Regions from separate parts of the Homo sapiens genome. Here regions 1 and 3 are each linked to region 2. The links come from fine-mapping of genetic effects on gene expression. A gene starts in region 2. Each other region holds a variant in brackets. All regions are shown on one strand. Distances are from middle to middle.

Evidence for each region. PIP is the estimated chance that this variant, and not a neighbour inherited with it, causes the effect.
Region 1: its variant is fine-mapped to the expression of HACD3 in whole blood (TOPMed, PIP above 0.99).
Region 3: its variant is fine-mapped to the expression of HACD3 in whole blood (TOPMed, PIP above 0.99).

Annotation. Positions count from the first base shown.
Region 1 is chr15:65,698,345-65,706,530 of GRCh38, reverse strand. It overlaps DENND4A (DENN domain containing 4A), which reads left to right. Exons shown (of 33, transcript NM_001320835.1): 15 at 307-440; 16 at 3,523-3,658; 17 at 4,020-4,226; 18 at 4,641-4,769; 19 at 5,339-5,480; 20 at 5,856-5,987. Among named protein-coding and RNA genes, the nearest start is that of SNORD13E, 5.5 kb to the right of the region's middle. The variant T/C (reference allele first, on the strand shown) is at 4,611.
Region 2 is chr15:65,527,160-65,535,345 of GRCh38, reverse strand. It overlaps HACD3 (3-hydroxyacyl-CoA dehydratase 3), which reads right to left and starts at 4,883. Exons shown (of 11, transcript NM_016395.4): 1 at 4,628-4,883. The coding sequence starts at 4,714. RefSeq lists a silencer at 4,801-5,020 and an enhancer at 6,059-6,559.
Region 3 is chr15:65,608,021-65,616,188 of GRCh38, reverse strand. It overlaps INTS14 (integrator complex subunit 14), which reads left to right and starts at 5,058. Exons shown (of 12, transcript NM_001394796.1): 1 at 5,058-5,091. It also overlaps a transcript of SLC24A1 not described here. RefSeq lists an enhancer at 4,981-5,140. The variant G/A (reference allele first, on the strand shown) is at 4,816.

The sequences.
Region 1 (8,186 bases), 170 kb before region 2:
GCAAGACTGTCTCAAAAAAAAATATATATATATATGTGTGTGTGTGTGTGTGTGTGTGTGTGTGTGTGTGTGTGTGTGTGTGTTATTTTCCCCTTTTCTTATTCAAAAGGTAATATACTATTTACAGTTTGCACTTTGCTATTTTCACTTAATTATTTTGGCACTCATAGAGAACTTGCTCACTCTTCTTTTTTAATAGCTGTTTAGTATCCATTGTGCAGATGGTTTATTTAACCACTTCCCTTTATATGAACACTTGGCTAACCAATGTGGCTTTTTTAATATATGTTTTTAAAACTCCTTTAGGTGGATATGGACAAGAGCGGTGAAGTACGACTTATAGAACTGGATGAATCTTTCAAAAGTGAACACACTGTTTTTGTAACACCACCTGAGATCCCCCACCTACCCAATGGTGAAGAACCCCCTTTACAGTACAGGTATTCAAGAGGCAGAATGTTTGAGATTGAAAGAGAGAAGCAATCCATCATCTGTGACGTAGCTTTCTAAGGACTGTGGTATTTTCAAAAATCCAAACTTTACAGATCCCTAATTTTTAGGTGGTAAGCAAGCTTATCCCACATCCATTATTAAGCTTTGAGGTATAAAAAGAAAACATATATAATTTTGCATAATATAGACTTGGGAAGCTCTCTAATGATGTCTGCATAAGTATCTCTCCTTGTAAATGTTGATTACATTCAGTTAGACTCCCCACACCAAATGCAGCACTAGAATTTTGATTTTTTTTTCGTTAAAGCTGGTTTCCTCACTTTCAATTCCTCTTTTCATCTCATACACAGATTGATTAATATAGCCTTGGTTTACAAAAAGATTAAATCTAATTTAGAGCCAATCTTCGTGGCCTTGATTTGTACGATATAATTTTTTAAGTTACTAATTTTTTTCATGAGTTTTAAGTCATGGAAATTCAGAATTATTAGAATTGATCATTGTTAATTTAGGGAATTTGGTTAGACACTGTGCTAAGTATACAGACTTAAACGATATATTGTCCCTGCCTTCAAGTCTAGTGAAGAAGAGAGAAAAGTCCTGAGCACAGTAAAATAAGGGCTATGATAGAGGTGAATGCATTATTTAGTTCCCAATATGCATTTATTTTTACTTAAAATTGTAGTTTCTTTTAGAGTTTAAAAGATTTCTTAATTCTCCAATAATATTTTCTTACTTTGTTTAAAGATTCTAAAAACCATTTCACATCTATCACCCATTGAATCATGGTTTGTTATTTTCATTGAAAAAGGATTTTTCAATGACATCTTTGTTTATGACTTGGATTAAATTCTTCCTTTTACAGATGAAAAAGTGGTGTGATAGATGTTTATGAATGTTGATTAATCAGAGACCACTTGATTTCTACTCTTTTCATCCAGTGATGATGATGTTTGTATCACTTTTTAAATGTCTTCTGTCAAAGATATTTAAAATATTTCTCTTAATTTCTCTCTTCCTCTCTTTGTCTTTCTAAACAAGTTCTCATTTTTTAATCTCTTTTGTACTTTATGCTTATTTGTCTTTTGGTATGTGTCACTTCGAGTTTTGTGTTTCTGTGGTTTGGTTTTAACTTTTTAATTTAAATTTTATTTTTAGATTTAGTCCTTTAACTCTAAGAAAATTTGGCCAGACGCGGTGGCTTATGCCTGTAATCCCAGCACTTTGGGAGGCTGAGGTGGGCGGATCACTTGAGGTCAGGAGTTCGAGACCAACCTGGCCAACATGGTGAAAACCCTGTCTCTGCTAAAAATACAAAAATTAGCTAGGCATGGTTGCAGGTGCCTGTAATCCCAGCTGCTTGGGAGGCCGAGGCAGGACAATTTCTTGAACCGGGGAGGTGGAGGTTGCAGTGAGCCGAGATCGTGCCACTGCACTCCAGCCTGCGTGACAGAACGAGACTCTATCTCCAAAAAAACCACATTATTTCAGCCTGTGCAACATAGCAAGACCTTATCTCTATAAATAATTTTTTAAAAATAGCTGGGCGTGGTGCTGCACACCTGTGGTCCCAGCTACTCAGGAGGCTGAGGTGGAAGGATCACTTGAGCCTGGGAGGTTGAGACTGCAGTGAGCCATCATTGAGCTACTGCACTCCAGCTTGGGCGATGGAACAGACATAAATCAAAAAATAAAATAATAAGAAAATTACTTATCTGAAGACGTTTCTGTTTTTTAAGAATCTGTCGGTTTTTTTCTTCAGACTACCAATATAATTTTGGTATAATCATTACCATAATTGGGAAAACACCGTAAATGTCCTTAATGAGCACAGAGTCTGCCTCATAAGAGATTACTCATAAACTTACATTGTCTTTGTAAAATAATGAGGCATTTGAAATAAGACACACAAAATGGTCTTATTATCTCATCATATACATACAATGAATTTTTTAAGGGGCATGGTTTTCCTGGATTTCTTTGCTGTTTCCTACTCAACATTGAATCATTACTAATATTTTCTTATTCTATGGAATTTGACTATAGTAATGTGTAAAAAATATTGTCTACCCTCTTTTATTATAGTTAGGTTTCTTCTTAATTAAAACTATGTGCTTTTAAGAAAATATTACATAGTATTCTTAAACAGGTTAAGTGTATTGCTCAGGGGGCTGCTTTGGTTTCTTTCAGCATATCTTTTTCCTAACTGCTGCCTTTCACTTATTTACTTATTTATTAATGAAGTTTCACTATGTTGTCCAGGCTAGAGTGCAGTGGCTGTTCACTGGCAGAACCGTAGTGCACTACAGCCTTGAATTCCTGGGCTCAGGCAGTCCTCCTGCCTTAGTTTCCTGAGTAACTGGGATTATAGGCATGCACTAACTGCACCCAGCCTAGCTGCTAGCTTTGAAATGTCCAGAGCATCTTGGTCTCGCACCCTTATTAGGTTTACCTCCTAATAGAGCACCTATTCTAACCTTTTCTTCCTCTTATTTAGCCTTCTCAATTTTCTTTCTCATAAATGATGCCCTGAACCCACTAGCTAACCTGACAAACCAATTCATGAGAATGTGAGAGCAAGGCCTGGTGTGCTAATATGCTAAACCTAAGGTTGTTATTTGCATCTTTCTAAGAAGGGAGGTTCAACAGTAAATATGTTAATCCAAAGCAATGACATTAATGATTGCCCTTTTTGAAAGAGTCTTAATTTGGTAGGCCTTTTACCAACTGTCATATTATCTAATATGTTTGCTATGTATTAACAAGAGTACTAACTTTTAAAAGTTTGCTAAAGTTACCTTGGAGTTGGATGTCATGTTCATTTATGTTTTTCCCTTTTCCTCAAAAACTAACTTGAGTCTGAATTTGGCTATTACATTTCTAATTATAGTAAGAAGAGCAACATTAGCATGAATATTTGTTGAGTGTATATCACAGCCTGACAAAGAAAGATAGTTAAATTCTATGTGAAGAAGTTATTGGTCGTAATTATATTAACCTGTAACCACTATGATCATCTATGTGTGCTTGAGAACTCTTTTTTGTTTTGTTTTGTTTTTTCTAAAACAGCTATAATGGATTTCCAGTTCTTAGGAACAATTTATTTGAAAGACCTGAAGGATTTCTACAAGCAAAGAAGAACAAATTGCCTTCAAAATCAAGTAGTCCTAATAGCCCTTTGCCCATGTTCAGAAGAACAAAACAGGTACTTTATCACATTCTTCATGTAATCAAATTTTAGAACAAGAAATAAATTGGATATTTATCCTCCCGTAATATGCTTTATCACTTCATATATAACTATTACTAGATTATTATGTTCACCAAAGCACTGTGAAGATGGAGCAATCTGACTTCAAGAAATTAACTAGTTCTCTTGTCCTAGAACTTTATTTTATATGCTGTTTAATACAGATTCAAAAAGAAACTTGAAAACGCATTAATTACAGACATATTTTGTTATGGAAACATTATAAAAGCATGTGACTTGTACTTGTTTAGCACTCAGTTAAATAAAGATGCCTAAGTGCATAAATTTATTAGTAAGATCTTTATATTTTTTCCAGGAAATTAAATCAGCCCATAAAATTGCAAAGAGGTACTCTTCCATCCCTCAGATGTGGTCTAGGTGTCTACTGCGCCACTGTTATGGACTGTGGTTTATTTGTCTCCCAGCTTATGTGAAAGTCTGTCATTCAAAAGTCAGGGCTCTGAAAACAGCATATGATGTGCTTAAAAAAATGCAGTCAAAGAAGATGGATCCACCTGATGAGGTAACAATTATTTTATTGTTGTTATTTTATTTTTTTGAGATGGGGTCTCACTCTGTCACCCAGGCTGGAGTGCAGTGATGCAGTCATGGCTCACTGCAGTCTTAACCTCTTGAGCTCAAGAGATGCAATCCTCCCATTTTAGCCTCCCAGATAGCTGTGACTACAGTCATGTGCCACCACGCCTGGCTAATTTTTTAATTTTTTTGTAGAGACAGAGTCTCACTATGTGGTCTAGGTTAGTCAGAAGCTCCTGGGCTCCAGAGCTTCACCTGCCTTGCCCTCCCAAAATGTTGGAATTACAGGCATGAGCCACTGTGCCCTGCCACAATTATTGTTTAAAATGCATTATTTTATTCTAGATTTATGTACATGGTGACATCTGTG[T/C]TTCGGTACAATTTTGAACTTGTATTTCAGGTATGCTACCGCATTCTTATGCAACTCTGTGGACAATATGATCAGCCAGTGCTTGCAGTTCGAGTGCTTTTTGAAATGCAGAAAGCTGGTATTGACCCCAATGCCATTACTTATGGTTATTATAATAAGGTAAATACCTTGGTTTAATGGATAAAGAGTATTACTTTTGTCATTATGCAACATTAATGGCAGAAATAATTTATGCAGGGGGTTATTTGGCATTTATTTTAGAGTATATAAAATACATTTTGTCAATCAAGGAAGACTTTAGTTCTCTTTTATGTTATACAATCTACTTTGATTTTTTCTTTCTTTGAAACAGGGTCTCACTCTGTGAGACTCTAGCGCCAGGCTAGAGTGCAGTGGCACAATCATGGTTCACTGTAGCCTTGACCTCCCAGGCTCAATTGATCTTCCCACCTGAGCCTCCTGAGTAGCTGGGACTACAGGCATGTGCCACCATGCCTGGCTAATTTTCATATTTTTTGGAGAGGTGGGGTTTCACCTTGTTGCCCAGGCTGGTCTTGAATTCCTGGGCTCAAGTGATCCACCTGCCTCAGCCTCCCAAATTGCTGGGATTACAGGCATGAGCCACCACTCCTGGCCTACTTTGATATTCTTTAGCTTAATTCTGAAACCAATATATGTTCACTTATAAAAATTATTTTACTAATTATTTTATTTTGTTGAATGAATAGGCTGTTTTGGAAAGTACCTGGCCTTCAAGAAGTCGTAGTGGCTATTTTCTTTGGACAAAAGTAAGAAATGTTGTTTTAGGAGTAACACAGTTCAAAAGAGCTTTAAAGAAGCATGCACACTTATCACAAACAACTCTCTCAGGTAAGGGATGTATGTGTTTTACTTGTTCTTCAAAATTAATTGATTAGCTACAGTTTACATTTTTAGAAATTTTAAATAGTTTTAAAATATTGAATGTTTTAGTTTTTAGTTTTATTAAGCAAATTATATTACTCTTCCCATTTAAAAACCACCAGATTTCACTTCTGTTTAAATGTTTCAACTTCTGACGACCTTTGTGTGTGTTTTAGTGTTCATTAATAACTCACAATAGGTTTCTTTGTTATAGTTGTATTTTGCTAAGTATGTGGCACTTTTCATGTTCAGTATTACATTGGTGGATTATTAGCTTGAGCAACAAATTAATGTGTATTTACCTCTTCGAGTAGTAAAATGCTGTCAAATTGTGTTCTTAAGCAGATGGCAGTGACCTGGATGCTGTTAGTCATGGCAGCATGGATAGTGGTCATGGGACACACACTGTGGAGCAGGCACCTTTTAATACGGGTTTAATCAAAGTATATGCTACTGATGATAGATCTAGTACAGGTTTGTGTATGCTTATGTATACATTTATTATAGTACATTTTTAAAACTAGATTTGCTAGCCTATGTTTTTTTACATTTTCATTTTCAGTGATGTTTAACTGTCACTTTTTAATTTTATATATTATGTATTTTATTTGATATTAGATTTAATAACTATATGAAATTTTATTCATTCTTTATTTGAATAGAAATAAAAGTTTTAAGAGAGGTTATAAATCACTTTATTCAAGTATTTAGTATATGATAATCCAGTTAACTCTGCGTAGACATAGATCTGTTTACCCTATCATTTTCTTATAATAAATTCTTTGAAATTATGAAAATGATATTAGAGTTTTTTAAAAAAAGAAGCATAGCTCTGTGTCTAAGTTAATAGTATTGTACCAACATCAGTTTCCTGGTTTTGACAATGTACTATGGTTATGTAAGGTATTATCATGGGGGGAAGCTAGGTGAATTGTACCAAGGAACTCTCTGTACTGTAATGTTTTTGCAACTTCTAAATCTTAAGTGATTTTAAAAGTCATAATAAAAAATTTTAAATATATAAAAATATAGCATTTTAAGGCTGGGTGTGATAGCTCATGCCTGTAATCCCAGCACCTTGGGAAGCTAAGGTGGGTGGTTCACTTGAGCCCAGGAGTTTGAGACTGTCTGGGCAACATAACAAAACCCTGTCTCTACAAAAATACAAAAATTAGCTGGGCTTGGTGTCCCATGCCTGTGCTCCCAGATACTAGGGAGGCTGAGGTAGGAGAATTGCTTGAACCCAGGAGGTTGAGGCTGCAGTGAGCCATGATCAAGCCACTGCACTCCAGCTTGGGTGACAGAGCGAGACCCTGTCTCAAAAAAAAAATTTATATATATATATAAAATAATATATGTATAATATTATATATGTATGTGTAGTAGTATATGTATAACATGTGTGTATAATACATATACACATATGTATATGTATTTATATATGTGTATATAGAATTATATATCTTATGTGTATGTTTATATATGTGTATATAGAATTGTATACTTCAGTGCTAGAATTATAGTGCCGAAGATGGCATTAATTTCATAGAAGTATAAGTTCGTATATCAGCTTTTCTTAACTATTATTACAATTGACACACTTAAAAATAAATTATTTACATAATTCTGTTCTTTTTATTATTACATTTCAAAAATTACACATGACTTTTGACTACAGATAAGAGCAAACTCTTAAAGGACAGAAACTTTAAAAATTGAAGCATTACTAATAAAATATGAAGGCCCCTATCTCTGCAAATGTCAATATTATTTTGGTCTGTCTTACTTTATACCTAAAGTTTAATAAATGTAAGCTCATTTTGTTGAAATGTAATATTCATAGTTATTCTTCCTTGATTGATTTTATTCCTTGATTATGCAGTGTGATTTTCATCAGTTACAATAGTTATCCTTTGGCATTATCTCTTACAAATGAAGAAATCTTATCTTTTAACTGTGGCTTTTAAAAAGGCTATCTTAGGCCTGGTGCAGTGGCTCACACCTGTAATTCTAGCATTTTGGGAGGCCAAGGCAGGCAGGTCACTTGAGGCCAGGAGTTCAAGACCAGCCTGGCCAACATGGCGAAACACCATCTCTACTAAAAATGCAAAAATTAGCTAGGCATGGTGGCACATTCCTGTAATCCCAGCTACTTGGGAGGCGTAGGCACGAGAATTGCTTGAACCCAGGAGGTGGAGGTTGCAGTGAGCCAAGATCACGCCACTGCACTCCAGCCTGGGCAACATAGTTGAGACTCTGTCTCAAAAAAAAAAAAAAAAAAAAAAAAAAAAGGCTATCTTAAAATAGTGTAAAACCTAATAAAAGCATGAATTTCATCAAGATTATTCTCAGATTTTTCTATTTATAATTCCTTTAAAAATGGACCTGAAGTTTGATTAGAAAAAATAAAAACTGAAAATTATAACAACGATATTAAAGTGAATATCTAGTGATACATAATATAATTTCTTTAGAGAGTGCTTTACAAGTTTATAAACATTTTTCATATATAGTCTCATATAGTAATAACAACCTTACGTTTTACAAATTTGGGAACTTCAAATCCAAACAAAAAGATTACATTGTTACTTAAAATCATATGTCTCCTAAGATAGAGAACTAGGATTCAAAACTTTATCTTTTGTGACTAATCTGGTGAAAACGATTTTCTAA
Region 2 (8,186 bases):
TATTGGTCTGTAGGTGTTCTTTAAATAGTCGTGATATTAGTCATCTCTCAATGATATGCACTGCAAATGTCTTCTTCAAGTTTGTCTTAAATGTGCCAATCTTTGTCTTTAGGGTTTGTGTTTTGTGCATCTTGCTTAACACATTCTCCCCCTTTCCAATATTATAAAGATAGTCTCCTATATTTCTTTTTAGTAGTTTTTCTTTATGCGTTTAGGTCATTAATGCACCTGAAACTGATTTTTGTGTATGGCATAAGGCAGGATCTTATTTTCTTTTTGCCATTTGGATTACCAATTGTCCCAGTACAATTTCCTGAATGGGTCATTCTCTCCTCATTAATTTGTAAGAGCGCCTCTTGTCATACCTTAACTTTTCATATATGAATAGGTCTGCTAATAGGCTCTATTCTTCCATTGCTCTGTGACCATCCCTCTCATCTAAGGTTTAATATCGCAATCATCATAATCACTCACTTGAACTGCACACTAGAATTTGCAAAGCACTTTCAAATCCATTTTCCAATTCAAATCTCAAAATGGTCCTATGAGTTAGGCACTACTGTTCATATCTGTCTGGATGAAGAGCGTCAGGTTCATAAAGGTTAAGTGAATCATGGTCACTAGAGCATAAGTGTAATAAGAACAAGGACCCAATCTCATGTGTTCAGTTAGCACTCTTTCCACCAGACTCTGTTAGGTAAGGACAGGAACAATATCTTTCAAACAGCTCTCAAACACAGCTACGCTCTGTTCTCTGCTCACAACACCCAAAACAAACAAGCACCTTGTAAATAAACCAATGCTTTAACAACTATGTTTCTCGGGACAAACACGTTCATTATGTTCATCGTGAAAGTAAATTCAATCTTGAAAGTAACCCTGCTTTAGCTGGCCTCTTTGCTACCGTTCACCTCAAGCACAGACGATGCCACTGCTGAAGTCTTTATTGTCCACCATTTCTCCTCACATCAGCCGTGTTCTCTCATAGTCACTAGCCCTGCAGCATCCAAGACAGAATAGAGATGTGATGACTGGACAGTTCCCTGTGTCAGGATGGAGGGAGACAGAGCCAATGCCTCCAAACTGGAACTTAACACTTTAAAACTCACACTTACACATAAGCTGTGGGTCATGCTATAGAAAGCAGAGAGTGTTAAAGTGCTGTCCAAGAACCCCACACCTAGCTTAATGATAGACAAGAGTAGGTACTCCATAAACGATTTTTACTGAACAAATAAATGAAGTGCTTCATCCAGAGCCAGAACCACTGGTTTCTTTTCTTTTTTTTTTTTTTTGAGACGGAGTCTCGCTCTGTCCCCCAGGCTGGAGTGCAGTGGCGCAGTCTCGGCTCACTGCAAGCTCCACCTCCCGGGTTCACGCCATTCTCCTGCCTCAGCCTCCTGGTAGCTGGGACTATAGGCGCCCGCCACCACGCCTGGCTAATTTTTTTGTATTTTTAGTAGAGACGAGGTTTCACCGTGTTAGCCAGGATGGTCTCGATCTCCTGACCTCATGATCCGCCCGTCTCGGCCTCCCATAGTGCTGGGATTACAGGCATGAGCCACCACACCCGGCTGCTTTTCTTTCTTTTTTTTTTTTTTAAATAACAAATCTGCACATGTAAAACCACTGGTTTCAACAGGCCCTGCATAGAGCAATCAGTTGAGAAAGAAAAAAAAAAGGCAACCCGTGACACTCCAGAAGCAGGCATAGCACTCACAGCCAGGCCATGTTATTCTCCTATGGGACATAAACAATCTCACAGAATACCAACCTCAGACAAGGTTACTCTGAAATCCTCATAAAATGAGACAAAGGCCATTTCACAATTTTGTTATAAGCACAGACAAATACATAGTGGCTATGCCACTCACGAAATACCAAACACCCTTTGGCCAAATTGAGTGACTGCTACTCCTGTAGCAATTACAGTTTTGTTCTTATACTAGTCTCCCTGCCCTACAGGTAAGATTTATTCAGATACCCAACCACGAAACTCCCATATTTTCTTACAGGATCTTATCTGAAGTGAAACCCAACCTCCTTAACCCTCCCCTCCCCTAATCACCAACACCCAAATCCTATAATCAGTTCTAACACCCTCCTAATGAAACACCCCAGGGTTCCCCATGGAGTATGCTCTCTCAATGCAATGAGTAATAAACCCAACTTGTTTAACTACGGGTGTGTTATTGGTGGCCTTTGGGCATTGACACGGCTTAAGTCAGAGATTACAAGTGTCTAAAAGTCTATGCCTTTCTCTTTCTGGAACATTCTCCCAGTCTTAGTTTGACAAAAATAATTCTCATTTCTGGAAGTCATCACTAACTAAATGAAAGAAAGGTAACAAATTCCTTTAACACCAGATACCTGGTTCAACATCCAACTCCAATTCTACCAATAAACATACTCCTACACAAAACTTTTTGTTTGTATATGATACGCCTCCTTCTAGATAGCATGCCCTTGAAAAGCTGGGTCTGACTCACCTTTGTAAATCTGTACTACCTTACATGTGTTAGAGGATTGCTAACACATGTAAACACTCTTTTATGAGGGTAACATCATGCTTTTAAACTAATGGTAGTTGAAATATGGGTGCCTCAAAACTACAGATGTGAAACCCCAGAGAAAACAAAAACTCAATAAGGGGGAAAAATGATTTATTTTTCCCCAAAAATTTTTAGATGGTTACTTTTTTTTTTTTTTTTTTGAGACAGAGTTTCACTCTTGTTGCCCAGGCTGGAGTGCAATGGCACCATCTCAGCTCACCGCAACCTCCGCCTCCCGGGTTCAAGCAATTCTCCTGCCTCAGCCTCCCGAGTAGCCAACATAGTGAATTACACGCATGCACCACCATGCCCGGCTAATTTTGTATTTTTAGTAGAGATGGGGTTTCTCCATGTTGGTCAGGCTGGTGTCGAACTCCTGACCTCAGGTGATCCTCCCGCCTCGGCCTCCCAAAGTGTTGGCATTACAGGCGTGAGCCACAGCACCTGGCCTGTTCCGTACTTTTTTATTGACTGCTGGAAGAACCCTCTCTAGACGGGGACTTTGATCCCCATCTACAAAAGATTTTGTTTGTTTTTTCCTATTCTATTAAACCACCGTGGAGCAGTAGAGGGAGACAGCACAGAACATTTACTCATACTCTGACCCAAAAGTATAGCCTCAGTCTGGATGAACACATTAAACGACACACCATGCAATGTCATAGCCTATTTAAAGGCATTCTGGCCACTACTGTCTTCATCTTTCAACAGGAAAACTGTTTATATTCCAGAAGCAAAGATTATATTAAATTCAATAAATTCAAGTCGACACTCAGAAAGCACCTACATTTTACCGGATCCACGGGTGATCCAAGCAGATGCCTGTTCAGAGGCAGAGAGAGTTAAATGGAGTGAAAGAGATGACAAAGTGCCATAGATGTTAAGGAGAAGTTTCCAATAAGAATGACTGTAGAAAGAACCTTCCAGAGGCTGGGCGCGGTGGCTCATGCCTGTAATCCCAGCACTTTGGGAGGCCGAGACGGGTGGATCACCTGAGGTCAGAAGTTCGAGACCAGCCTGGCCAACATGGTGAAACCCTGTCGCTACTAAAAATACAAAAATTAGCCGGGCATGGTGGCACGCGTCTATAATCCCAGCTACTCGGGAGGCTGAGGCAGGAGAATCCCTTGAACCCGGGAGGCAGAGGTTGCGGTGAGCCGAGATCGCGCCATTGCACTCCAGCCTGGGCGACAAGAGCGAAACACCGTCTCAAAAAAAAGAAAAGAAAAAAAAAGAAAGAAAGAAAGAAAGAACCTTCCAGAATGAAAATTCCAGTTTCTCAAAGCCCAGAATCTTTAGTTTGGACAGAGACATGAGGATACACAGGTCCTGGAGTCTCCACTACTACGTGCCTTCAGCTTGCTTACATTAAGGGCCAAGGAGCTCAAACAGAAATGCTTAATGTAACTTAAGAACTTTTTAAGTTCTCTGTGCAACTCAGCAAACCTGAGCTCACAACCTTCAGAACAGAGGGGGAAATCACTTCCTCCAGCTCTTGTGAATTTTAAAATTAAAAGTAATGAGAATGATTTCCATCACTGAACGGTTGCGAGGTGGGTGTGGCCCCCCACCCCTCCCCCTCCCCCACCTCCGGCAGCGCCCAGCCTCAGTAACGTCCGAGGGGCCTGGCTGGACCTCTCAGGCCAGCGGCAGGCATTCAGCTACGGCCCAGCAAGCCGCTGTCACAACCGCACCCCTGACCCAACAAGCTCATCCCACATCTCGAAGGGCCCCAGCCAACTCGAACCCCGACGGCCAGGCAGCCAGGGCCGGGCCTGGGCTCCATGAAGGCCGCCGACTGCGAACAAAGAAGAGGCCCGGGGTAGCCTGAGAGGCCCAGGCCGAGCTCTCTGGGGACCCGAAGGTTCCTGCAGCCCTCGGGGGGTTGTGCCCCCGGCCCGAGATCTGCAGATGAGCCTCGAAAAGCGCCAGCACGCCGTAAGCGCACCGCGTCGCCGACCTTGTTGGCGCACTGCAGGCTCTCCGGCGCGCACGCGGACAAAGGGGGCAGGGGTCCTGGCGGGTACCCGGAGCCGCGATCCCGCGCGCTTCCCGCCGCCCGACCCGGCCTTTACCTGTACGTCACTCAGCTCCACGCGCAGATATAGCTCGCGGTGTCGCTGAGCCCAGTAGACATGCGGCGTCAACACCTGATTCTCCATGGCCACACTGCCCAGGGCGCGGGGAGGCTAGGCTCGCTGCGCCTCGCTGCCTCAGGTAGTGCTCTGCTGGCGCGAGCAGAAAGCAGGCCTCAAACCCTAGCGCTCCTGAGCGCCTGCAACCCGGCACCTCGAGATACCCCACGCTCGCGGGCCGCGCCTGCGCAGTGACGCGCCGGGATGGCGGCGGCGCCAGCAGCGGGCCTTGGCGCGAGCCGGGCGGGGGCGGGGCGCAGGCGGGATAGGGGCAGGCCGGGGCACAGAGACGCCGCAGCTCGCCGCGGCCGCCTAGGGAATTGGAATCAGCGGGTGGTCTGCTCTCCCCACTCGTCTTCAGGGACATGCTTTAAAATAAGCTTTAAAATAAAAAAGGCTGGAGACTTATGGGGGACCGATCAGCCTGGAAAAGGGTTTGGGACTGGTGTCTCTGGACGGTCCTTCGCATTCTGTTTACTGAGTACCTACTGTGTGCCTGGGTTTCAAAGCTAAACACTGGAACAACAGAAGTGAGACACAGTCCCTTCTGTCTTAGAACTCCCAGCCTATTAAAAGATGCAAGTAATTACAGATGAAATGAGGATAATAATGGTGATAGGGGACATGGTGTGGGAGCAGCGTGGAAGAGCGTTCCAACAAGGGAAAATAAAGACCAGGGCAGCGCTGCCCAATAAAACTGTAGGTGATGATGGAAATATTGCACATTGCGCTCTTTAATACGGTAGCCACTAGCCACATGAGGCTTTTGAGTACTTGAACTGAATAACCGAATTTTCAATTTTACTCACTTCTGTTTTTTTTTTGTTGTTGTTGTTGTTTTGTTTTGAGACGGAGTTTCTCTCTTGTTGCCCAGGCTGGAGTGCAATGGCGCGATCTCGGCTCACCGCAACCTCTGTCTCCCGGGTTCAAGTGATTCTCCTGCCTCAGCCTCCCGAGTAGCTGGGATTACAGGCATGCGCCACCGGCTAATTTTGTATTTTTAGTAGAGACGAGGTTTCTCCATGTTGGTCAGGCTGGTCTCGAACTCCCGACCTCAGGTGATCCGCCCGCCTTGGCCTCCCAAAGTGCTGAGATTATAGGCGTGAGACACCGCGCCCGGCCAACTTTATTCACTTCTAATTTAAACTTAAATATCCATATTTTTGGTGGCTATTCTATTGGACAGTGCAGGAGACTGTCTCAAAAAAATAGGAAACTCAAACTAGAGACAACACTCATTTATGTCTTACTTAAGCTGTCTTGTCTGTATCGGGTTTCATCCCCAAGTTCTTCTGCAGAGAAGAATTTAATGGGAAGAAATATTTATATGAAAACTAGAACTCTGGGACAAAAATGGAACTCATATTCAATCCTGTTAGCTCCCATTTATTTAGCAAAGTGATTCTATTAGCACCCGTTTGTTTAGCAGAGGGATCTAACGCTGAAAACAAATTCTGCTAGCTCTCTGGAAACATTTAGCTCAAGAGTGGACAGAATAAAATATAGAGAGTTTTCATATAATGAATGTGCTGAGCTCACAAAGAGTTTATGATGATAGGAACTGAGGGCCGTGGGAACCATTGTCAGACATTTGAGAGCCAACCCTTGAGAACGGGATGGTGAAATGCGAGTAGGAATTTGACTGAGTAAGAACCAGGTAGGCCGTGGAAGCACAGGGCGCTTGCTTCGTTCACAGGTGAAAAGATGTGGACCAGGTGCAGCGTCTCACGCGTGTAATCCCAGCACTTTGGGAGGACGAGGCGGGAGGATCGCTGGAGCCCAGGAGTTTGAGACCAGCCTGGGAAAAATGGCAATACACTGTCTCTACAAAAAATACAACAGTTAGCAGGGCGTGGTTGGCGCGCCCCTGGGGTCCGAGCTACTCGGGAGGCTAGGGTGGGAGAATTGCTTAAGCCCAGGAGGCGAGATCGCGCCACTGCACTCCAGCTTGGGTGACAGTGTGAGGCCCTGTCTTAAAATTTAAAAAAGAGAGAGGGTTGTGGAAGGAGGTTCTGCTGCTAGGGATTAAAGGCATAGAGGAGAGAGGTCGCCCTGAATCTGGAAAGGCAGAGGGTGCATTAGGAAAGTCTTTGTTTGCTTCACTGAGGTGCCTATACTGTATCCCACAGACACATGGGAGCCAAGGAAGTTTGTTAACCTGGAGATTAGTAAAATCAAATGTGCTCAGCAAGAAAGACCTGTCAGAGAGGAGGAGGAATTGGTAGTAGGCAAAGCAATGGGAGACCAATGCAATCTGCCAAGAATGAGTTGATGAAAGCAGTGACGTTGACAGTCTTGAATTTTAACGATAAAATATTTTTTATGATAAAGGTATTTTATTGTATTGTGTTTACTACAATGCAGATGCAATATGGGGCACTTTTTAAAAACATTGAGATGTAGTTTACATATAGAACATGGGTAAATCTTAAATATTCAGTTTAAGCTGAATTTTTCTATATGTATATATCCATGTAATTATCACCTAGATCAAGATCTGGAATATTTCCAGTATCCCAGAGGTTATTTCATGTTAAAATATCTTTGCCTCTCAGTAATTACTATCCTGATATATCACCATAGAGTCTTTTTTGTCTGTTCTGTTCTTGAATTTTATATAAATGGAACCTACAGTGTCTGGTTTCTTTTTCTTTTTTCTTTTTTTTTTTTTTGAGACAGAGTCTTGCTCTGTCACCCAGGATGGAGTGCAGTGGTGCAGTCTCGGCTCACTGCAACCTCGGCCTCCCAATTCAAGCGATTCTCCTGCCTCAGCCTCCCAAGTAGCTGGGATTACAGCTGTCCGCCATCACGCCCAGCTAATTTTTGTATTTTTAGTAGAGACGGGGTTTCACCATGTTGGTCAGGATGGTCTCTAACTCCTGACCTCGTGATCTGCCTGCCTCAGCCTCCCAAAGTGCTGGGATTACAGGCATGAGCCACCGTGCCTGGCCCCTAATTTTTGTATTTTAGTAGATACGGGGTTTCACCATCTTGGCCAGGCTAGTCTTGAACTCCTGACCTCATGATCCACCCGCTTCAGCCTCCCAAAGTGCTGGGATTACAGATGTGAGCCACCGCACCGGGCCTTGGTTTCTTTCATCAACATAATGTGTATGAGATTTATCCATGTTGCTGAGTGAATCAGTAATTCATTCTTTTAGTTTTTGGTTTTGCTCTGTAGTAGTTGACTATATGAGTATACCACAAATTATTTATCCATTCTCCTATCGATGGATATTTGTGTTGTTTCTAGTTTTTAGCTATTACAAATAAAGCTGCTCTGAATATTTGTGTACCTGTCTTTTGGGGATAAATGCTCTTAATTATCTTGGAATAAATACCTATGAAGGGAATTGCTAGGTTACACAGGTGTATGATTAGCTTTAGTAGGTGTGCTAAGCAGTTTTACAAAGTGTTTTGGTCAATTTACATTCCACGGCAATGTTTGAAAGTTCTAGTTGCTCTATATCCCTAGTATTTTCAGACTTTTTAATTTAAT
Region 3 (8,168 bases), 81 kb before region 2:
ATGTTTATTGTGGCACTATTCACAATAGCAAAGACTTGGAACCAACCCAAATGTCCATCAATGATAGACTGGATTAAGAAAATGTGGCACATATACACCATGGAATACTATGCAGCCATAAAAAAGGATGAGTTTATGTCCTTTGCAGGGACATGGATGAAGCTGGAAACCATGATTCTCAGCAAACTATCTCAAGGACAGAAAACCAAACACTGCATGTTCTCACCGATAGGTGGGAATTGAACAATGAGATTACTTGGACACAGGGCAGGGAACATCACACACTGGGGCCTGTTGGGGGGTGGGGGGGTGGGGGAGGGATAGCATTAGGAGAAATAACTAATGTAAATGATGAGTCAATGGGTGCAGCAAACCAACATGGCACATACATACGTATGTATCAAACCTGCATGTTGTGCATATGTACCCTAGAACTTAAAGTATGACTAAAAAAAAATTAAAATTAACTTTGAATTTTTATCCATAGACACAAATTATTATTTTTTTTGAGACAGGGTCTTGCTGTGTTGCCCAGGCTGGAGTGCAGTGGCATGATGTTGGTTCACTGCAACCTCCACCTCCCGGATTCAGGCGATTCTCATGCCTCAGCCTTCCAAGCAGCTGACTACAGGTGCCCGCCATGACAGCCGGCTAATTTTTGTATTTTTAGTAGAGACAGGGTTACACTATGTTGGTCAGGCTTGCCTCGAACACCTGACCTCAAGTGATCTACCCACCTCGGCCTCCCAAAGTGCTGGAATTACAGGCGTGAGCCACCGTGCCCGGCCTCCCAGCCTCACAAATTACTTTTTATAAGTTTTTAAAAACTAGTTTTATTTGGCTTTATCTTCTTTTTCATTGAAAGATGCCACTAAGGTTTTAAGAGAGTGAGTGGTGAGCCTGGGTCAGGGCCCAGATCATGAGGGGCCTTTAAAAATTTAGACTTCATAGCATTTTGTTTGTTTGTTTGTTTGTTTGTTTTTAGAGATAAGATCTTGTCCTGGCTGGAGTGCAGTGACACAATCACAGCTCACTGCAGCCTTGAACTGTTGGGCTCAAACAATCCTCCTGCCTCAGCCTCCTGAGTAGCTAGGATTACAGGTGCACACCACCACACCTGGTTAATTTTAATTTTTGTAGAGACAAGGTCTTTCTATGTTGCCCAGGCTAGTCTCGAACAGCTGGGCTCAAGCGATTCTCCTGCCTCCGCCTCCCGAAGAGCTGAGAGCCACCACTCTAGGCCTTTATAGCACTTTTCAAAGGAAAGAGTGTATGGAAGAAAGAAGTTCCTTTCTACTTTCTTAGAGAAATGTAGTATCTACCAAGTTTTCTCTGCTTTCCTCTTTGACTTTTTTTTCCAATAACCTCTCTTACTCCCCTCCTATCTTCTTTCCACAAATGCATATCCACCATCACATGCCAGACCCTGGGGGATCCAGTGATGGATAAAGCTCACCCTATTTTCAGAGCAGAGGCAAAGTTAGTTGGAATTGGAAATGTGTAAAGCTTTTCTTTGTTCAGTGAGTCTTTTCATTATTTAAAATAGAGAGCAGCTTTGCGGTTTTCTCAAATGCTCTGGAAAAAACTGAAAGAGGATTGAGAGCAATTTTAAAAGGAGGGGGAGCACAGTTTTCCAAATACATTTCGAAGGAAAAGAGGGGGAAACCTGTGGATTAAAAGAGACTTCTGAGATATAGCAACGGATTTCAATATCTGGATCTTACTTGGATCCTGATTCAAATAACCAAAGTGTAAAAAAGTAAAATTTATGATATTTATGACACAACTGAATATTTGAAAGCTGATTCGATATTTGATGATATTAGGGATTTATTGTTAATTATGTTAAATTTGATAATGGTATTGTAATTATATATTTTTAAGTTCTCTTTTAAAGATACATAAGGAAATATTCCTGGATAAAATGTTATGCTATCAGGGATCTCCATCAAAATAATATGTGGGGAGAAGTCGGTAGGGGTGTACATGAAACGAGATGAGGATTGCATTGACAGCAGAAACTGGGTGAAGGGCACACAGGGATTTATTATCCTAATCTCCCTATCTTTGTCTATGTTTGAAAATTTCCATAATAAAATTTTTTTTCAGAAGACAGAAGGGTCATATTTATGATTGACTTCTGCTTTGGTGAAAATAGTGAAATAGGGAGGAGGTAATGATGAGAGGAAGGGGCTGGAGCTTGGAAGTATGATTTGGGAGTGAACAGTCTCCAGACTACAGGGGCAGAAAGGGAAATGCAGGGCAAAGGACATCATGGGAGTATGAGAAGAGCGGGAAGAATGCAAAAGAGAAGTAGGCCCACTGCTCTTCCCCCACCCCTCAGCCTTTTCTTCACTTACTCATTCCCTATCCCTTATCTCTGTAGATGAAAAATCATCTTGGGGCCAAATGTAGTGGCTCATGCCTGTAATCCTGGCACTTTGGGAGGCCAAGGAGGGAGGATCGCTTGAAATCAGGAGTTCAAGACCACTCTGGGCAACATAGTGAGACCCCCATCTCTACAAAAAATTTAAAAATTAGCCAGGCATGGTGGCACATGCCTGTAGTCCCAGCTACGTGGGAGGTTGAGGTTGGGGGGGATTGCTTAAATTCAGGAAGTCAAGGCTGCAAGAAGCCATGACCATGCCACTGCACTCCAGCCTGGGTGACAAAGACCCTGTCACCACACACACACACACACACACACAAAATCACCCTGGGAACTTAACAGCAAAGATTCTCAAGCACGAAGTCATGAAATTTCATTTCCATTTCACTTGGCAAGGTCTGGGAATCTGCATTTTCAACACGTGCTCTGGGAGATTGAGATATCTAGACTTCCCTTTGAGCTCCCCAGTACCTAGCCCCTGTGAGAGCCATGGTTTTTCTGTCATAAACCTTTCCTCTGTCAGACTGGGGATCAAACACTGCCTTTCAAAGCCTTTGGGACAGCAGTCCACTGTTTCAAGGCAGGAAAAAATAAAGGGAATGAGAGATTATGCAAAGGAAACTATTTATTGATTTCCTTTAATGTGTGTGTGGAAACACGCAAATGCTGAGGGTCGTTTGAGTGGGGAAAAGAAATTCATCAGCCAGTGATGGCTTGAAAGACACCCCCTTTAAAACCTTCTAACCTTTGTGCTGATGTTCTCTGATGTTATAGTCACTGAACAACCTTCTGATTTGTAATGGGATTCCACTAAGGAGGAAAAACAAACAAACAAACTAGTTGCCCTAAGTAACACAGTCCTCCTGGTAGCTGTGCCTTTTATCATCAATTTAATATATTGATTTTTTGCTTTCCAAGTCTCCCAAAGCCTGTTATTCAGAAGAACTAGGTCACAAGATTTGATCATCCATCAGTGAACTAACTTAAGCTTTAGGGTTGGGTAAGGTAATGAATCAGACCCTGCAACTGAGCCAGAATTACCACGAGGACAGTAACCCTATGGCTAAGTCGTTGTCACATTAGGGGTAACTAGACACTTGCTTACCCACACATTCTTGGCCACATCCCTCCCAATAGGGCAAGATTAGAAATCATGACTAAGTTATCAGGCTGCAGCCTTACTTACCTGGAGCCCAATGCCTGCTCAAGCATAACTAGGTCTTGACATGGTGAGATCAGCCAGGTTGGGGAAAGAAGTTTTGAAGCAAATAGGGCAGTCTGCAGGGCCCTGGCCCCAGTGCTGGCAGGGATATTCCCAGGGACAGGAAAAAACTACAAGCAACTGGCCCCACAATCTCCCACATAACAAGCTGTGAGAAGTCAGACAGATTTGTCTGTTCAGTTCAAAGCATCCTCCTTCCTCGTCCCATCTCCTAATCTCGCCCCATCCTATCAGCTAAAAGAAAAAGGCAAATGCCTGAGGCCTTCTAGAGGCCTTTCTGTACTCACTTTGTAACCTATGTGGTTCCACATTGTTCTTTGAACCGTAACTACCCAGGGGCCTGCTGGCATCCATCTAAGCCTATCTCTAGCTGGGATTCCCTGGCTCCCTACATGGTTAGAAAGAAAGTCACCTCTTGCCCTCTTAAGGACCTCACTGAGGCACAGACTACAATGGAGACACCAGGTGGCCAGAGTGGCAGGCAAGAGCCCATGTTGCCTTACAGGGAAATCTGAGCACGCATGCCTTGTCCAGGGTGAGAGGAACGAGGGCCCTCTGCTTCCCTCAAAGAGGGGATAGGGGAAATAAAGTGAGCATTTGGGCTGAGGAGACCAAGAGGCCAAGTCTTGAGGTAAATTGGGCTCAGGTCAGCTAAGAAGGATATACAAAGCATACCTCAGCCAGGAATTACAGTTTTGGGGTTTTTCCCCCCAAGATTCTCGTGCGTTAGCCTCCCAAGTAGCTGGGATTACAGGCACTCGTTACCATGCCCGGCTAATTTTTGTATTTTAGTAGAGAGCGGGGTTTCACCATGTTTCCCAGGCTGGTCTCAAACTCCTGACCTGAAGCGATCCGCCCACCTTGGCCTCCCAAAGTGCTGGGATTACAGGCCTGAACCACCACGCCCGGCCAGGATTTGTAGTTCAGGAATTGCAGTTTAAAAAGAACAGGAAGAGGATTCTGTCAACCGGTTCAGAGGATACGAGAGAGGGGGCTAAAGAGTGACGAGGAAAATAGCAGGAAGGGTTGGGCTCGTGCACCGACGGGGCCCAGGGGAGTGAGGGGACAAAAGTGTGAAGCGGACACAGAGTCACCGGGCCAGGTGAGGCCCATGGGTCAGTGGGGCAGAAGGGGAAGGAAAGAGCCCGAGAATGGGGAGAGATTCAGGGCAATGCAGAGAGACACGGCAGGAAACCCAGCCAAG[G/A]CTCGAGAGAAGTTGGGGATTTGTGGGAGGAGAGGGGTGGCCGCGGATTGGCCATCGCGAAGAGAGGCCGCGCCCCCTAGCGTCCCTCCGGGATGAGCCAGAACCCTGCCCGGGCGACCCTGAAGCTCTCCAAGGACCGCCCCGCCCAGCGCGGAGTGCAGGCGCCGGATTCCCTTCTGTCGCGCGGCCTTATAGTTCCGGCTGTGGCGCGCGGACGGAAAGTTTATGCCGACGGAAAGTTTATGCCGACGGACTGTGTCCGGCGATGGGCACGGGGTGAGTGGGGAGGCCGAGGGCCCGGGACTGCCTTTCGCTGCTTGTTGGGGTTACAGGTGAAGGGGTTATGGGTGAAGAACAACCCAGGGCCAGCGCTTGGCCTTCCCGCCACCGTGGCGGCCGCCCCGCGCTGTCTGTGAGGCGCCAGTTCCGGGGCGCTGCTCCCGGCCTCCCCTCGCTCTGAGGCTCGGGGTCCCCAGCTCCGCGTAAACTGCACGATTTCGCCCTCTGCTCAGCTCCCCTCTGCCCCCTCTTTCCAAGAGAGACTTCCAGATCCCACATTTTCTTGACTGATTTTTAAGGTAAAAATACATCTCCCAGATGTGATTTTCAGTCTGGACTTTTAGAGATGAAATTATATCTGAGAACTGGGGAGGGACTCCCGGAGGCTGACGGGAAAGCCAAAGAGCAGGTGAGGCACTAGAAATTCAGGTAGAATCCTGCTTTGAGAGCGAGACTGCTGAGAATCAGTTCTTTATGAATGAGCTAATTATCACCTTCAGGGAAGAATTACAAACGTCTAGCTGATGGACACTTGGTATTCAAGGCCAAATAGGTGGCTAGGGCCTATTTCTCAGACTGTTCCTGAGAAAGAAGAGCCCTAGTTGTTTGAACAGTACACGTGGGAAGGGGGTGGGGGTGGGAGACTTGGGGGCTCAGAATCCACCCAAGTGAGGAATACATAGTGTTGTGCTCACAAAATTGGTAGACTGTGGTGGGCAGGGATTCCCCCCCACCCAAGACGGAGTCTCGCTCTGTCGCCCAGGCTGAAGAGCAGTGGCGCGATCTCGGCTCACTGCAACCTCTGCCTCCTGGGTTCAAGCAATTCTCCTATTTCAGCCTCCCAAGTACTAGAACCACAGGCGCACGCCACCACATCTGGCTAATTTTTGTATTTTTAGTAGAGATGGGGTTTCACCATGTTGGTCAGACTGGTCTCGAACTCCTGACCTCGGGTGATCTGCCCGCCTCAGCCTCCCAAAGTGCTGGGATTAAAGGCGTGCCTGGCCTTTTTTTTTTTTAATCAGGCCTATACTGCTTGAGTGAACTATCCTTCAGGAACTTTCAGTTCCCTCCTTTACTCCAACCTGAGTACTAAATTGATCTCCCACGACTTTGTAACTGTTAATGAGGTGCATTTGGGAGTCGACACAAATGCATCACTTGGGAGAAAGAGCCAGCTCCAGAGGTGTCTTCAGAGAAGGCAAGACTGCCAGCTGTCATCACTGTCAACAGCAGATTTCACGGGCTGAAAGTGCTTTTTTGTATTTGATCTAAGTCTGTGTAAACTGTTTCCTCCCATTCTCCTAAGAGGTGAGGGCAGTACTCCTCATGATCCTCAACTTGTAAAAAGGCCTCCCTGCATGAATGGGACTACCACAGGAGCTGGGCAGACGTGAGGGAGTCCCCCATATGTCTGCTTGAATGAGGAGAAGAGGAAATGTGTTTCTGGTGTCCAGAGTTAACATTTATAATGTATTTTGCTAAATAATATATGGTATATCTGGTGATTTAGGGGTAGTTCATCAGTTGTTATCAAATTGTTGGGCACCTACTATGTGCCAGTTACTGTGATAAGTTTTGAGGAGACATCATGGGCAAAATGTGGCATGGTCCCTGCCCTTAGTGAGCGTATGTTATGGTCTAATATAGTGTAGTTGAACCAATATTGTGCAGGACCTCACTTTTTTTTTTTCAGTCGGGCCTATACTGCTTGAGTGAACCATCCTTCAGGAACTTTCAGTTTCTTCTTTTACGCCTATGCTTACAACCTGAGTTGTAAACATTGTTTCCATGAACCAGTGTATTCTGAGTTCGAAACAGCCTACTTACAAATGGAATTTTGGCTGGGCGCGGTGGCTCACGCCTGTAATCCCAGCACTTTGGGAGGCAGAGGCAGGTGGATCACGAGGTCAGAAGTTCGAGACCAGCCTGGCCAATGTCGAGGTCAGAAGTTCGAGACCAGCCTGGCCAATGTGGTGAAACCCCATCTCTACTAAAAATACAAAAATTAGCCGAGTGTGGTGACACGCGCCTGTAGTCCTGGCTACTCGCGCCTGTAGTCCCGGCTACTCGGGAGGCTGAGGCAGGAGAATGGCGTGAACCCGGGAGGCGGTGCTTGCAGTGAGCGGAGATCGCGCCACTGCACTCCAGCCTGGGCGACAGATGTCGCAAGACTCCGTCTCAAAAACAAAAAAGAACAAATGGAATTTTAGAATATGACACATTTGCAGCTGGGCACCATCCTTAAACAAGTAATCTGGCTACTGTTAAATGTTTTGAAGTTAATCCCAAAAAAGAAAGTTGTGAACATTAAATTTCTAACCTGTTTATATCCACCTAATCTCTCTAATTGTATATTTGCATTATGATTTTTATGAAGTTGTAAGCAGTGTATAATACAGTTCTGGGGCCTGCTTTTCTCAGTTACTAATGCTTTCTATAAGTATTTCTGATATCTGTAGTACATATGTCATTTATTTATAGTTTTATGATATTTCATCATGTCAGTAGCCTACAGTTTGCTTAATAATAGAGTAGCAGCAGGCTATATACCCATGAGCAGGTCTGTGTATCTGTAAACTTTTTTATTTTTGAGCACCAAAATGTTTTCTTTATGCTAATTCTCAATCCATAATTTTGAATAACTCCATTTGTACATTTTGACTTTTCTACCCAATTTCATGAGATAATTCCAGCTGTATAAATTTTTTTTTTTTTTTTTTTTTTTTTGAGATGGAGCCTTCGTCTGTCACCCAGGCTGGAAGGCTGGAGTGCAGTGGCACGATCTCGGCTCACTACAACTTCCACCTCCTGTGTTCAAGGGATCTTCGTGCCTCAGCCTCCCAAGTAGCCACCATGCCTGGCTGATTTTTGTATTTTTAGTAGAGACAGGGTTTCACCATATTGGCCAGGCTGGTCTCGAACTCCTGACCTCAAGAGATCCGCCCACCTGGGCCTCTCAAAGTGTTGGGATTACAGGCATGAGCCACTGTGCCCGACCTTACATATTCTTTAATTTTGTTCTTTTCCTTCACAGTTGAAGCACCATTGGCCAGTTTATGTACAATGAATAC